Regions from separate parts of the Homo sapiens genome. Here region 1 is linked to region 2. The links come from fine-mapping of genetic effects on gene expression. Tissue or cell type: whole blood. Region 2 holds a variant in brackets; the other region holds the start of a gene. All regions are shown on one strand. Distances are between the middles of the regions.

Region 1 (5,000 bases), 310 kb after region 2:
TTGTTTCCCAGACCCATGACAACAGAGAGCATCTAGCCATGATGGAAAGGATCTTGGGTCCTATCCCTTCCCGGATGATCCGAAAGACAAGGTGAACCTTGAGGGGGCACTAGTTAACTCTTTTCCTTTTCTCTCCACAGAATTGGTCTATTTCACATCATTTTCTTTTTTCTTTGATACCTCCTCTCCCCCCAGTTACTTTCAGATGGGGAAATAAGGGAATTGTAACAAGGGTGACCTTCTGATTCCTCAACCTCCCCTTCCCCTCTAGAAAGCAGAAATATTTTTACCGGGGTCGCCTGGATTGGGATGAGAACACATCAGCTGGGCGCTATGTTCGTGAGAACTGCAAACCGCTGCGGGTGAGCTGGGCTCGGGATAAATAGTGCCCACCGTCCAGAAGTCACTTCCTTCTTAGGGTGGTTTGCCCCCTGGAATGCTCTTCACAAGCAGAGGGTTAGGAAAGGAGGGGAGGAAAGCTGAAAGAAGACATCTTTGGTCAACAGAGGAAACATAAGAGGGAGTGGTTTTGTGGAGGGAAGGAGGTTAGACAGCCTAACCTTGAGACAACCAGAGATCAAAGCAATGTCCTGGATTCTTTAGGTCAGACAGAAAAGAATAAACTACCTTTGAAGAGCTTACATTTTAATGAGGAACTAAAGAAGATTCATGAAGTTGACAAGGATATACAAGTAGAAAGAACTTTCAAAGATTATGGAGTAATTGTGCTAGTGGGAAGGTAGGTTGAGCTATAATATCAGAAACGTTGGTCCTGGTGTGGTCGTGGTTAGGTAGCCTTCAAATTGGTTGCAAGCAGAGCCTTGGTTCTCCAAGAATGAAAGGTAGGGTCTTGAAGAAGGCAGGGTTTGTAAGGCATCCTGCCTCACCTTTTTCCTGCCCTCCTCCACCAGCGGTATCTGACCTCAGAGGCAGAGGAACACCACCAGCTCTTCGATCTGATTGAAAGCATGCTAGAGTATGAACCAGCTAAGCGGCTGACCTTGGGTGAAGCCCTTCAGCATCCTTTCTTCGCCCGCCTTCGGGCTGAGCCGCCCAACAAGTTGTGGGACTCCAGTCGGGATATCAGTCGGTGACGATCAGGCCCTGGGCCCCCCTGCATCTTTTATAGCAGTGGGTGTCCAGTCCAGGACACTGGTGCTTTTTTATACAAGAGAACGAGCCAGAGTTCACTCCTTCCTCCTGGCTCTCTATATACCTGTGAATATGTGAAATAGTGTAAATATGAAAGAACTTGTACCTATCACTTCAACCCCTGCCTTGTACATAATACTATTCCATCCACACAGTTTCCACCCTCACCTGCCCCCTCATACGGAGTTGGATGGGGGCCGAGTGAGGTAACCAGGTGGCATCTACCCCATGTTTTATAAGGAATTTTGTACAGTCTTTGTGAAATAAAATAACGTGCTTCATTTGACCCCCATCCCTGGAGTTGGAGGTTTGGGAATGCTGGGGTGGAGGGATGAAACTATTGGCAAACTTTCTGAGTTTGGGTATGAAGGGAGTCCTCCTTACCCTCCAAAATGAAGCACAGCCAGGCTACCAGTTTATTTCCCCTGTCCACCTTATCATATGGGAGGGTAGTGATGGGTGGGGCAGCATTTCTTTCAGATTAAAACAGAGAAGTGTTATGAGGTGGCACTTCTCGGATGTGGAATTATGAGAGTTGGGAAAGATCTGACTCCTAGAGTCATTAGGCCGCGGCCCAGTATAGAGCCAGAAACTCAGGTTGAAAACGTGCTCAACCTGGCTCCTAGGGGGGATTGCCACGACCGGTCAGAAGGCTCCCGTCGTCCATCTCGGGAGACTAGGAAGGCCGGATTCCTACGCGAGGCCTGCTGGGAAGTGTAGTTCGTTAGTGGAAGGAAGTCACATGGAAGAGGGGCGGTAGTTGGTTGTGGGCACTGGGTTAGAGGTATCACGTGGGGGCACTTTCGTCTTAGCTTTTGGACAAGACGCAGGCGCAACCCACGGCTGCTGCGGGGATCCTTGTGGCCCTTCCGGTCGGTGGAACCAATCCGTGCACAGAGAAGCGGGGCGAACTGAGGCGAGTGAAGTGGACTCTGAGGGCTACCGCTACCGCCACTGCTGCGGCAGGGGCGTGGAGGGCAGAGGGCCGCGGAGGCCGCAGTTGCAAACATGGCTCAGAGCAGAGACGGCGGAAACCCGTTCGCCGAGCCCAGCGAGCTTGACAACCCCTTTCAGGTGACTTGCGCCAGTCGGCCTCTTTTGGGCGGTCAGGTTGATTCTTCCCGGTTCTGTAGGGTCGGGCTAACTTGTATCCCCATTTGTGACATTTGATCCTGGGAAGAGCCGCCACGTGGGGTGACAGTGACTCCAGACCAGTGAGCACTCTGGGGGGCGGGCCCTGCCCCTTAATGGGCTGGTGCTGGCAGTGTTGGATGATGGATTTGAGGTAAATGTTGTCCCAGTCCTGGGACAACGGCGTGGCCCCGAAGGTGCAGTACTTGGAGCCACAGGCAGTTTGGGAATGGTCCCTGGGAATTCCCCTAGGTGGCACTGGGTGCCAGCTGAGACCCGGGTCTCTGCCCTCAGGACCCAGCTGTGATCCAGCACCGACCCAGCCGGCAGTATGCCACGCTTGACGTCTACAACCCTTTTGAGACCCGGGAGGTGAGCTACTGGAGAGCATAGGAGTTCAAGGAAGGGAAGGGTTTGCCAGTGAGACAAGTTAGCTTGGGTACAGGGGACTTTTCTGCATGCACAGGAAGGAAGAGGCACTGTGATCTTAGTTCCCTGAGAGAGGCTAGTCAGCCATGGGATGCCTCATCCTTCTAGGGCCACCAGGGCCACCAACCCAAATGGTTTGAGCTCTAAAAGTCAGTCCTGGGAAGATCTGGAGGCTGGCAAGGCCTTAACCAATGTTCTGTATGGGAAGGCTTTCTTGAAGAAAATAAAGGTTGGGGCTGGTTGGAGTTTAGGTTAGGTGTGCAGTTTGAAAGCAAGGAATGAGGAGGACTACACCTGTTTGTCCCACTGGATTAGAAGATGGTGAGTTGTAAGAATTTAAGGGGTTTTCATGGTACTTAAAACTTAAAAAAAAAAGCCAAGCATGGTGTGCATGCCTGTAATCCCACTTGGGAGGCTGAGGTGGGAGGATTGCTTGAGCCCAGGAATTTGATGGAGACCATCCTGGGCAACAGCGAGACCCCCATCTCTTGAAACGTTTTAAAAATTGGCTAGGTGTAGTGGCACATGCCTGTAGTCCTTGCTACTTGGGAGGCTGGGATGGAAAGACTGCTTGGGCCCAGGAGTTTGAGGCTTCGATGAGTGATGATTGCACCACTGCACTCCAGCCTGGGTGGCAGAGAGACAACCCCACACTCCATCCCCAGAAGAAAAGAAAAAAAAAAAACACAGTTAAGTGGGGAGATATGGTAAATGAGTGATTTGAGTCCTCACTAAGGAATTGGATATGAGGGATGATAAGGCTGCTACAGGTCATCATAGAGTTCTCTGACAGAAATTCAACAGAAGAACTAGCTTCCTAACAAATGGGGGAAAGGCTGCTTCCTTACATCATGAGTTCTGGGTCTAAAGGTATTCAAGCAGACTCTAGATTCCTGTGTTATGAGGGACTAGATGATCACTAAGGTCTTTTCCTCAACAGCCACCACCAGCCTATGAGCCTCCAGCCCCTGCCCCATTGCCTCCACCCTCAGCTCCCTCCTTGCAGCCCTCGAGAAAGCTCAGCCCCACAGAACCTAAGAACTATGGCTCATACAGCACTCAGGTACAGGAGGTGTGCAGGTGAGGGCTGGGGAGAAGGGCCAGTCCTGGGGCCCAGGGCTCACATCTCCGTCTGCTCACACTGGGCAGGCCTCAGCTGCAGCAGCCACAGCTGAGCTGCTGAAGAAACAGGAGGAGCTCAACCGGAAGGCAGAGGAGTTGGACCGAAGGGAGCGAGAGCTGCAGCATGCTGCCCTGGGGGGCACAGCTAGTAAGTAATAGAGTGGGGAAGAGCATCTGAGAGTTTGGGAGGAGCAAAAACAGGTCTTAAGGGCCTGGGCTCGGCTGGGTGCGGTGGCTCACACCTATAATCCCAGCACTTTGGGAGGCTGAGGTGGGCGGATCACGAGGTCAAGAGATCGAGACCATCCTAGCCAACATGGTGAAACCCTGTATCTACTAAAAATACACACACACAAAAATTAGCTGGGCATGGTGGCGCGCACCTGTAGTCCCAGCTACTCGGGAGGCTGAGGCAGGAGAATCGCTTGAACCCGGGAGGTGGAGGTTGCAGTGAGCCGAGATAGCGCCACTGCACTCCAGCCTGGTGACAGAGTGAGACTCCATCTCAAAAAAAAAAAAAAACACAAACCTGGGCTCTGGAGTCAGACTGCTGAGTTTGAATTTTAGAGATACTGCTTACTAACCATGAGCTTTTAGGGAAGTTACTTAATCTTGAATGCCTCAGTTTCCCTATTTATAAAATGAAAACCACGTTTGCATCCGTTTGACAGGGTTGTTGTGAAGGTTAAACAAAATATATGTGAAGTACTTGGTACAGTGCTTAGATGTTTTAAATAATAATAAACAGTATTAATTTTTCCACTCTCACTTGTCTCCTTGGACCCCAAATTGGAGATAAAAGAGAGGATCCAGGGCTGGGTATGGTGCCTCACGCCTGTAATTCCAACACTTTGGGAGGCCGAGGCAGGCAGGTTGCTTGAGCTCAGGAGTTAGAGACCAACCTGGACAACATAGTGAGATCCTGCCTCCAAAACATTAATGAAAAAAATTAGCAGGGCATGATGGTACCTGTCTGTAGTCCTAGCTCCTCAAGAAGCTGAGGTGGACGGCCAGGCGCCGGGGCTCATGCCTGTAATCCCAGCACTCTGGGAGGCCAAGGCGGGTGGATCACCTGAGGTCAGGAGTTCAGGACCAGCCAACATGGTGAAACCCTGTCTCTACTAAAAATACAAAAATTAGCTGGGCGTGGTGGCATGTGCCCATAA
Region 2 (10,891 bases):
GTATAAGGATCACTTGAGCCCAGGAGTTCAAGACCAGCCTGGCAAGATAGCAAGACTGCGTCTCTTAAAAACAATTAAAAAACAAAATAAAATGTAGATAAACAAATCCCAAATAGTTGCCTTAGTCTTTTGAAGCTTTTCCAAATGCATGTAAAAAGACATTTTTTTGTATTTGTAATAATCTGTAAGAAACCACAGATTCTTACACACTATTGTGTGTAAAACTCTGCCGCTACTCTGATGAAACTGTTTAGGTAGTGTTAGAGTATTAGAGTTCTCTCTCCCTTTTTTTTTTTTTTTTTTTTTGAGACAGAGTCTCACTCTGTTACCCAAGTGGAGTGCAGTGGCACAATCTTGGCTCACTGCAACCTCTGCCTCCTGGGCTCAAGCAATTCTCCTGCCTCAGCCTCCCGAGTACAGATGCATGCCACCACACTTGGCTAATTTTTTGGTGTTTAGTAGAGATGGGGTTTCACCATGTTGCCCAGGGTGGTTTTGAACTCCTCAGCTCAGGCAATCCGCCCACCTCGGCCTCCCAAAGTGCTGGGATTACAGGCGTGAGCCACCGCACCTGGCCAAATTATCTTTCTTTAAACAAACAACAAAAAGAGTATTCTTGCCTAGACAGGCCAAATGTAACTTCAGAAGGAAGTCAGAAACAGCCTGTGCCAAATTTAGAAAGGTATCCCAAAGACTATGTGCTAAAACTTCAGTGCAGTGGCGTGATCACGGCTCACTGCAACCTCGAACTCTCAGGCCGAAATGATCCTTTCACCTCAGCCTCCCAAGTAACTGGGACCACAGGTGCACACCACCACGCCTGGCTAATTTATTTTTATTATTTTTGTAGAGACAGGGCAGGGTCTTACTATGTTGCCCAGTCTGGTCTCAAACTCCTGGGCACAAGGGATCGTCCTGCCTCCATCTCCCAACATGCTGGGATTACGGGTGTGAGCCACCACACTCGGCCCTTTTTTTTTTTTTTCTTAGAGTCAGGGTCTCATTATGTTACCAAGGCTGGTTTCAAACCGCTGGCCATGCAACCTCTCCCTTCAGCCTCACGAGTAGTTGGGATTACATGTGCGAGCCACTATACCCAGAGAGAATAACAGATTCTTTTTTTTTTTTTTTTCTTTTTGAGATGGACTCTTGCTCTGTTGCCCAGGCTGGAGGGCAGTGGCCCGATCTCGGCTCACTGCAACCTCTGCCTCCCGGGTTCAAGAAATTCTCTTGCCTCAGCCTCCCAAGTAGCTGGGATTACAGACACACCACCACGCCTGGCTAATTTTTGTATTTTTAGTAGAGACGAGGTTTCACCATTTTGGCCAGTCTGGTCTCAAACTCCTCAACCTCAAGTGATCTGCCTGCCTCGGCCTCCCAAAGTGCTGGGATTACAGGCGAGAACCACAGATGCTTAAGATTATGTCGACCTAGTCTAAGGATTGAACTCGTTCAGAACTAAATCAGTGCTACATTGATCTTAATATTAATCACTGAATATTTTTCTGAAATAGGCTCTATAATAAGCAAATTAAAGGCATTATCTTACAACAGTCCCATCAGGTACACGTTATTATGCTCAGCTGAAAATAAGTATGGATAGATTAACTCCAAGGGTATATATCCTAAAATCAGGCAGTTTTAGAATTGAAATCTATGTTTGACTCTCAAGCCTTTCCCATTAGCCACTATATATGCTACACTGTCAATCAGCAAATGCCTAATGATTTCCAGTGATGGGGAACTCAATAGGAAGTCATTATGGTTTTTACACAGCTTTTAATAAAAGTTCTTCAGTAGTTCGAGGCAACATGTCTCCTTGTAGCTTCCATTCACTGTCCTAGTCTTCCTCTTGGGTTTTTTGTTTGTTTGTTTGTTTGTTTGTTTGTTTGCTTGTTTTGAGATGGAGTTTCACTCTTGTTGCCCAGGCCAGAGTGCAATGGCTTGATCTCGGCTCACCACAACCTCTGCCTCCCGGGTTCAAGCGATTCTCCCGCCTCGGCCTCCCGAGTAGCTAGGATTGCCTGCATGCGCCACCATGTCCATGTCCAGCTAATTTTGTATTTTCAGTAGAGACGGGGTTTCTCCATGTTGGTCAGGCTGGTCTTGAACTCCCAACCTCAGGTGATCCGCCTGCCCCAGCCTCCCAAAGTGCTGGGATGACAAGCGTGAGCCACCACACCTGGCCTCCTCTTGGGTTTTACAAGCCATCTTCCACATGACAGCTTTTCAATTATTAAAGGTAGTTATGGGCCGGGTGCAGTGGCTCACACCTGTAATCCCAGCACTTTGGGAGGCCGAGGTGGGCAGATCACCTGAGGTCAGGAGTTTGAGACCAGCCTGGCCAATATGGCGAAACCTCGTCTCTACTGAAAAAAAAAAAAACAAAAAAAAAACCACACAGGGCCGGGCGCGGTGGCTCACGCCTGTAATCCCAGCACTTTGGGAGGCCGAGGCGGGCGGATCACAAGGTCAGGAGATCGAGACCATCTTGGCTAACACGGTGAAACCCCATCTCTACTAAAAATACAAAAAATTAGCCGGGCGCGGTGGCGGGCGCCTGTAGTCCCAGCTACTCGGGAGGCTGAGGCAGGAGAATGGCGTGAACCTGGGAGGCGGAGCTTGCAGTGAGCCGAGATTGTGCCACTGCAGTCTGGCCTGGGCTAAAGAGTGGGACTCCGTCTCAAAAAAAAAAAAAAAAAAAAAGATTAGCCGGGCGTGGTGGCGCATGCCTGTAGTTCCAGCTACTTGGGAGGCTGAGGCACAAGAATCACGTGAACCTGGGAGGCGGAGGTTGCAGTGAGCCAAGACTGCACGCCAGTGTGGGTGACAGAGTGAGACTCTATCTCAAAAAAAAAAAAAAAAAAAAAAAAAAAAGAAAGGTAGTTATGGTCCTCTGCTCCCCACCCCTCCCCCATAAATGCTTTCAGTTTCCTAAAGCAATTATCATGCAGTACAAGTCCCTTCTCTATATTACCCCAATACACTTCAGGTATGATCTACTGTTTCCCTAATTTAGGATATTATATTTCCAAGAGCGACTTTTGTAACTCCATCACACCAGTGCTTCATACGGAGAACACAGTTCACTAAAATCACCAGTCCTTTTTTTAAAAAAATATTGCTACTATCAAAATCCCAGCAATCTTTTTGGTCAAAATTGTCAAGCTAGCTAGGTGCGGTGGCTCATGCCTATAATCCCAGCTCTTTGGGAGGCCAAGGCGGGTGGATCAATTGAGCTAGGAGTTCGATACCAGCCTGGGCAACAGGGTGAAACTCCGTCTCTACGAAAAATACAAAATTAGCTGGGTGTAGTGGCTCGTGCTTGTAGCCCCAGCTAGTTGGGGAGCTGAGGTGGGAGGATCGCTTGAGCCTGAGAAGTCGAAAGTGCAGTGGACTCTAGCGTCGCGCCACTCCACTCCAACCTGGGTGACACAGTGAGACCCTGTCTTAAGAAAAAACTTTTGAAGCTGATCTCAAAATTCATATGGAAATGCCATAGACCTAGAATAGCCCAAGCATTCTTGAAAAATAACAAATTTAAAGGACTCATACATCTTGATTCCAAAACTTACGATAAAGCTACAGTAATCAAGATAGTCTGGTACTGGCATACGCTTACATCATGGTCAACTGATTTTCAACATGGATGCCAAGACACTTCAATGAAGAAAGAATAGTCTCTTCAACAAATAGTGCTGGGACAACCTGATACTCATGCAAAAGAATGAAAATGGACCCCTACCTTACATTATACACAAACATGAATGCAAAATAGCTCATAGACCTAAATGTAAGAGCTACAGGTATAAAACTTGGAGGGGGCGGCCGGGCGTGGTGGCTCACGCCTGTAATCCCAGCACTTTGGGAGGCCGAGGCGGGTGGATCACGAGGTCAGGAGATCGAGACCATCCTGGCTAACATGGTAAAACCCCATCTCTACTAAAAATACAAAAAATTAGCCGGGCGTGGTGGCAGGCGCCTGTAGTCCCAGCTACTCCGGAGGCTGAGGCAGGAGAATGGCGTGAACCTGGGAGGTGGAGCTTGCAGTGAGCTGAGATTGCGCCACTGCACTACAGCCTGGGTGACAGAGCGAGACTCCATCTCAAAAAACAAACAAACAAACAAAAAAAAGACAAAAAAAAAAACTTGCAGGGGTGAGTTTTCTAACTTTTTTTTTTTTTTTTTTTTTTTTTTTGAGACGGAGTTTTGCTCTTGTTGCCCAGGCTGGAGTGCAATGGCACGATCTCGGCTCACTGCAACCTCCGCCTCCCGGGTTCAAGCCATTCTCCTGCCTCAGTCTCCCGAGTAGCTGGGATTACAAGCGCCTGCCACCACGCCCGGCTAATTTTTTGTATTTTTAGTAGAGATGGGGTTTTACCATGTTAGCCAGGATGGTCTCGATCTCCTGACCTCAGGTGATCCACCCAGTTTGGCCTCCCAAAGTGCTGGGATTACAGGCGTGTGCCACTGCGCTCAGCCTCTAATTTTCTATAGCAGAAAATACAGGAGTAAATCTTCATTATCGTGTGTTATGCAATGGTTTCTTAGATATAACATCAAAAGCACAAGCAAAAGAACTAAAAATAGGCTGGGCACAGTGGCTCACACCTGTAATCCCAGCACTTTGGGAGGCTGAGGTGGGCGGATCACAAGGTCAAGATATCGAGACCATCATGGCCAACATGGTGAAACCCCATCTCTACTAAAAATACAAAACTTAGATGGGCGTGGTGGTGCGCACCTGTAGTCCCAGCTACTCAGGAGGCTGAGGCAGGAGAATCACTTGAACCCGGGAGGCGGAAGTTGCAGTGAGCTGAGATCGCGTCACTGCAGTCCAGCCTGGTGACAGAGACTCCGTCTCAAAAAACAAAAACAAAAACAAAACAGAACAAAACAAAAAAACTATAAATAGATAACGAATTGTATCCAAATCAGACACTTGTACTTCAAAGGATACCATCAAGTAAGTGGAAGACAACCCACAGGATGGGAGAAAATATTTGCAAATCACATAGAACTTAACTTATCTCCATAATATATAAAGAACATTTACAACTTAATAAAAAGGCAACTCAATTTAAAAATGGGGGGCCTGGCGGGGTGGCTCACACCTGTAATCCCAGCACTTTGGGAGGCCGAAGCAGGCGGATCACCTGAGGTCAGGAGTTTGAGACCAGCCTGGCCAACATGGAGAAACCCCTTCTCTACTAAAAATACAAAATTAGCTGGGCGTGGTGACGTGTGCCTGTAGTCCCAGCCACTTGGCAGGCTGAGGCAGGAGAATCGCTTGAGCCCAGGAGGTGGAGGTTGCAGTGAGCCGAGATCACGCCATTGCACTGCAGCCTGGGCAACAGAGCGAACTCTGTCTCAAAAATAAATAAATAAATAAATAAATAAATAAATAAATAAATAAAAATAAAATAAGACAAAAATAAACAATAAAATAAATAAATAAAATAGGCAAAAGAGCCAGGTGCAGTGGCTCACACCTGCAATCCCAGCACTTTGTGAGGCTGAGGCAGAAGGATTGCTTATGCCCAGGAGTTTGAGACCAGCCTGGGTAACATAATGAGACCTGCTCTCTACAAAAAATTTAAAAAATTAGCCAGGTGCGGTGGCGTGCCACTGTGGACCCAGCTATTTGGGGGGCTGAGCGGGGAGGATCACCTGGGTCTGGGAGGCTGAGGCTGCAGTGAGCCGTGATTGCACCACTGCACTCCAGCCGGGGGCAACAGAGTGAGACCCTGACTCAAATTAAGAAAAAAAAAGGCAAAAGATTTGAGCAGGCATTTCTCCAAAGTATAAAAGTTATACAAATGGCCAATAAGCACATGAAAAATGCTCAACATTATTAGTCATCTAGAAAATGCAAATAAAAACCACAATGAGATACCACTTCACACCCACTAGGATGGCTCAAATCAAAAGAACTGACAATGATATGTGTTGGACAGGATCTGGAAAAACTGGGATTCTCTCTCTCTCTTTTTTTTTTTGA[G/T]GGTCAAAGAACTCATTTATTTTTACTCATAGAAAGTACAAGTATTAGCCTGGCATGGTGGCTCACACCTGTAATCCCAGCACTTTAGGAAGCTGAGGCGAGTGAATCACCCGAGGTCAGGAATTTGAGAGCAGCCTGGTCAACATGGCAAAACTCCGTCTCTACTAAAAATACAAAAATTAGCTGGGCATGGCGGCGCATGCCTGTAATCCCAGCTAATCGGGAGGTTGAGGCAGGAGAATCGCTTGAACCCGGGAGGTGGAGGTTGCAGTGAGCCGAAATAGTGCCACTGCACTCCAACCTGGCAACAGGAGACTCCGTCTCAAAAAAAAAAAAAAAAAAGAAAAAGTTCTAAAATTAGATAGTGGAGGCTGTGCACGGTGGCTCAGGCCTGTAATCCCAGCACTTTCGGAGACCAGGAGTTCGAGACCAGCCTGGGCAACATAGGAAAACCTTATCTCTACTACTAATAAAAAAAATTAGCTGAACATAGTTGCCTGTGCCTGTAGTTCTGGCTGCTCAGGAGGCTGAGGCAGGAGGATCCCTTGAGTCAAGAAGCTAGAGGTTGCAGTGAGCTAGGATTGCACCACTGCACTCCAGCCTGGGTAACAGAGTGAGGTCCTATTTGAAAGCAAGCAAACAAACAAACCAATGTAAACTTACAGATGAGTTGCAAACGTAGTACGAAGAGCTTTCGTACACTCTTCATTCAGCTTTCCTTAATGTTATATATATGTCTATATATATATATACAACTATAGGACAGTTATCAAAATTAAGAAATTAAAGTTGGAACAATACTATTTACTAAACTACAGATTTTATTTGGATTTCCTCAGCTTTTCTGCTATGTCTTTTTCTTTTTTTGAGACAAGGTCTTGCTCTGTCACCTAGGCTGCAGTGTGATGACGTGATCTTGGCTCATTGTAATCTCCACCTCAATCCTTGGACTTCAGCCTCTCAAGTAGCTTGGACTACAGGCATATGCCACTACACTTGGCTAATTTTTGTGTTTTTTGTTGAGATGGGGTTTCACCATGTTGTCCAGGCTGGTCTTCAACTCCTGGGCTCAAGCGATATGCCTGCCTCTGCCTCCTAAAAGTGCTGGGATTACAGGCGTGAGCCACTGCACCCAGCCTAATGTCTTCTTTTTGTTATAAGATCCAACAGAAGATTCCACATCTGAAGATCTTTTTGTTTTTTAAAATCTGTCACCAACATATTACCCACCCTTTAAAAATTTTGCAAAAGGTATAAATTTGAAAAATATATCCACATCGATCTCATTCAAGTCATTGATACAACTATTTAACAGGATACGATTGCCTAGCATAGCCTGGGTACAGTTTGTAATTTTTTTTTTTTTTTTTTTGTGAGATGGAGTTTTGCTTTTGTCACCCAGGCTGGAGTGCAATAGCGTGATCTCGGCTCACTGTAACCTCTGTCTCCTGGTTTCAAGCAAGTCTCCTGCCTCAGCATCCCTAGTAGCTGGGATTACAGGCACCTGCCACCACGCCCAGCTAATTTTTGTATTTTTAGTAGAGTCAGGGTTTCACCATGTTGGCCAGGCTGGTCTCAAACTCCTGACCTTAGGTGATCAGCCAGTTTCACCATCCCAAAGTGCTGGGATTACAGGCGTGAGCCACTGCGCCTGGTCAGTTCGTATTTTTTTTTTCCGTAGGGACAGGGTTTCGCCATGTGGTCCAGGCTAGTTTCAAACTCCTGAGCTCAAGCGATCTGTCTACCTTGGCCTCTCAACTGCTGGCATTACAGGCGTGTGCCACCATTCCCAGCTAATTTTTCTATCTTTTTTGTAGAGAAAGGATCTCATTATGTTGCCCAGGTTGCTCTCAAACTCTTGGGCTCAAGCGATCCACCTGCCTTGGCCTCTCAAAGTGCTGGGATTATAGATGTGAGCCACTGTCTGGCCCACTTGGGTATAGTTTAAAAATTCTGATACCCAGAGTGTGCCTCAGATCAATTAAATCAGCCTCTGATAGTGACCCAGGCATCAATATTTTTAAAGCTCCCCAGCTTATTCCAATGTGCAGCCAAGAGTGATAACCACTGCCTGTATGTCCATGGTTAAGGGAACTTCAACCCATTTTGCTAACATGTAGCCTTTGGGTATGGTTATTCAACCAATTAAACATTCAGTATACATTTCTCCAAAAAGCCACTGTGCGAGATTATCAAATGCCTAACTTTAATGAGGACATACCAATAATGGAATTTGATCTACCATTCTAAGAATTCTTTTTTTTGACTGGCGCAGTGGCTCACACCTGTCATCTGAGCACTTTGGGAGGCCAGGGCGGGTGGATCGCCTGAGGTCGGGAGTTCGAGACCAGCCTGACCAACATGGAGAAACCCCATCTCTACTAAAAATACAAAATTAGCCAGACGTGGTGGCGCATGCCTGCAAACCCAGTTACTTGGGAGGCTGAGGTGGGAGAATCGCTTGAACCCAGGAGGCGGAGGTTGCAGCAAACCGAGATCATGCCATTGCACTCCAGCCTGGGCAACAAGAGCGAAACTCCATCTCAAAAAAAAGAAAAAAAAATTCTCCATCTCCCGGGTTCAAGCAATTCTCTGCCTCAGCCTCCCGAGTAGCTTGGGATTACAGGTGCCCGAAACCATGGCTGGTTAAGTTTTGTATTTTTAGTAGAGACGGGGTTTCACCATCTTGGCCAGGATGGTCTTGAACTCCTGACTTCGTGATCCACCAGCCTGTCCTCTCAAAGTGCTGGGATTACAGGCGTGAGCCACCGCACCCGGCCATTCCAGGAATTCTAACAAGAAGGATATATTTGTCTGTCATGACTTTCTTTTGTACTAAACCCAGACTGATTCCTCATGATCAGTAATTCTTTCTCTAAATTAGTAGTTCTCTACCAGGGGGATTTTGTCCCCTCCCCCAACATTTGACAATGAATGTTTGGAGGCATTTTGGTTGTCACAGCTGAGGGAGGGAAGGGAGGATGCTATTGGCATCGAGTGAGTAGAGGCCAGGTATGTTGCTAAAGTCTACAATGCACAGGGAGTCCCCCACAACAAAGAATGATCCATCCCCAAATGTCAACAGTGTTGAGGTTGAGATTGTCCTAAATCCCAAGTCCCATAGGAAAAGTTTGGCTCACAAAGACTAATTTCTTTTTTTTTTTTTTTTTGAGACAAGAGTCTCACTCTGTCGCCCAGGCTGCAGTGCAGTGGCGCAATCTTGGCTCACTGCAACCTCCGCCTCCTGGGTTCAAATGATTCTCCTGCCTCAGCCTCCCAAGAAGCTGGGATTATAGGTGTCTGCCACCACATCCGACTAATTTTTGTATTTTTAGTAGAGATGAGGTTTCACCATGTTGGCCAGGCTGACCTCCTGACCTCAAGTGATCTGCCCTCCTCGGCCTCCCAAAGTGCTGGGATTACAGGCGTAAGCCACCATGCCAAGCCACAAAGAGTAATTTCATTGTTTTCATAATTTCAGAGAGAAAAAGCAGAATTCCTTATGCTGTATTTTCTCATCTTAATAATATCTATCTCCCCAGGTTTGGATTCCTAGAGCAATGTTAGAGCTATAAAAGTAAAAGAGTTCTGAAATTTACTGATTATCACAAACTTCAACAGTGCTAACTTCTCCAAGCTCTAAGGTTTTTGTTTGAGATAGGGTCTCCTGCAGTCTCCAAGGCTTGAGTGCAGTGGTATCATCGCTCACTGCAGTCTTGAACTCCTGGGCTCAAGTGATCCTCTCCCTTCAGCCTCCTGAGGAGCTTGGACTACAGCAGGGGTGTCCAATCTTGGCTTTCCTGGGCCACGTCGAAAGAATTGTCTTGAGCCACACATAAAACACACCAACACTAACAACAGCTGATGAGCTAAAATAGCAACAACAACAATGAAATCACAGAAAAAAAAGGCTCTTAATGTTTTAAGAAAGTTTATCAATTTGTGTTGGGCCCTATTCAAAGCCGTCCTGGGTTGTATGCAGCCCATGGGCCACAGGTTCGACAAGCTTGGACTATAGGCATGTACCACCATGACTGGCTAATTTTTACTTTTTTATAGAGATGGGGCTATGTTGCCAGGCTGGTCTTCAGCTCCTGGCCTGAAGCAATTCTCCCACTTTGGCCTCCCATAAAGTGCTGGGATTATACATGTGAGCATTGTGTCCGGCCAACCTCAGTCTTGTAGCTATAGGTGTTTTTGCTAGAAATAATGCATGTGGTTTACAATTCTGATAACAGTGCAAGTGATGATACAATATACACTTTTTAAAGCTCCCCAGCTTTTAAAGCTGCATTAGCTCTTCTGCAATGAAGAAAGCAAGAAGGAAGGAAATACAGTAGTCCACCCTTATCCTCGGGAGATCCCACTGCAGGATTCCCAGGGGATGCCTGAAACCATACAGAGTACTGATCACTAAATAAATAAACACACACACAAACACACACACACAGTTTTTTCCTATAGGTATATACCTATAATCAAGTTTAATTTATAAATCTGGCACAGTAACAAATGAACAGCAATAACCAATAAGAAAACGGAACAATATACCATACAAAAGTTATGTGAACATGGTCTCGCTCATTCTCAAAATATCTCATAGTACCGTGCTCACCCTTCTTGTGTTGAAGTGAGATGATAAAACGCTTATAAGATAAGATAAAGTGAATGACTTAGGAATTCTGATGTAGCTAATATCAACCTTCTGACTATACCTAAGAAGGGGGATCATCTTAGGGTGATCCTGAATCACTGAGTCATGCTGATGTCCACAGATGGATGTCAAAAGCCGATGATGTCAATGACTGACCAATGGGAGCACGTACAGCGTGGTTATGTTGATTCATATCCAGGACAGGGTGGTGCAAAATTTCATCACGTTACTCAGAA

Evidence for each region. PIP is the estimated chance that this variant, and not a neighbour inherited with it, causes the effect.
Region 1: it holds the start of SCAMP3, and the variant in region 2 is the best candidate, but not a certain one, in a credible set for the expression of SCAMP3 in whole blood (TOPMed, PIP 0.75).

The regions. Positions count from the first base shown.
Region 1 is chr1:155,259,312-155,264,311 of GRCh38, reverse strand. It overlaps SCAMP3 (secretory carrier membrane protein 3), which reads left to right and starts at 1,952. Exons shown (of 9, transcript NM_005698.4): 1 at 1,952-2,226; 2 at 2,578-2,655; 3 at 3,653-3,775; 4 at 3,862-3,982. The coding sequence starts at 2,161. CLK2 (CDC like kinase 2) reads left to right here. Exons shown (of 13, transcript NM_001294338.2): 11 at 12-91; 12 at 272-362; 13 at 912-1,444. The coding sequence ends at 1,094.
Region 2 is chr1:155,570,323-155,581,213 of GRCh38, reverse strand. It overlaps a transcript of MSTO1 not described here and the pseudogene LOC101929703. Among named protein-coding and RNA genes, the nearest start is that of ASH1L, 13 kb to the right of the region's middle. RefSeq lists a silencer at 4,070-4,207. The variant G/T (reference allele first, on the strand shown) is at 6,002.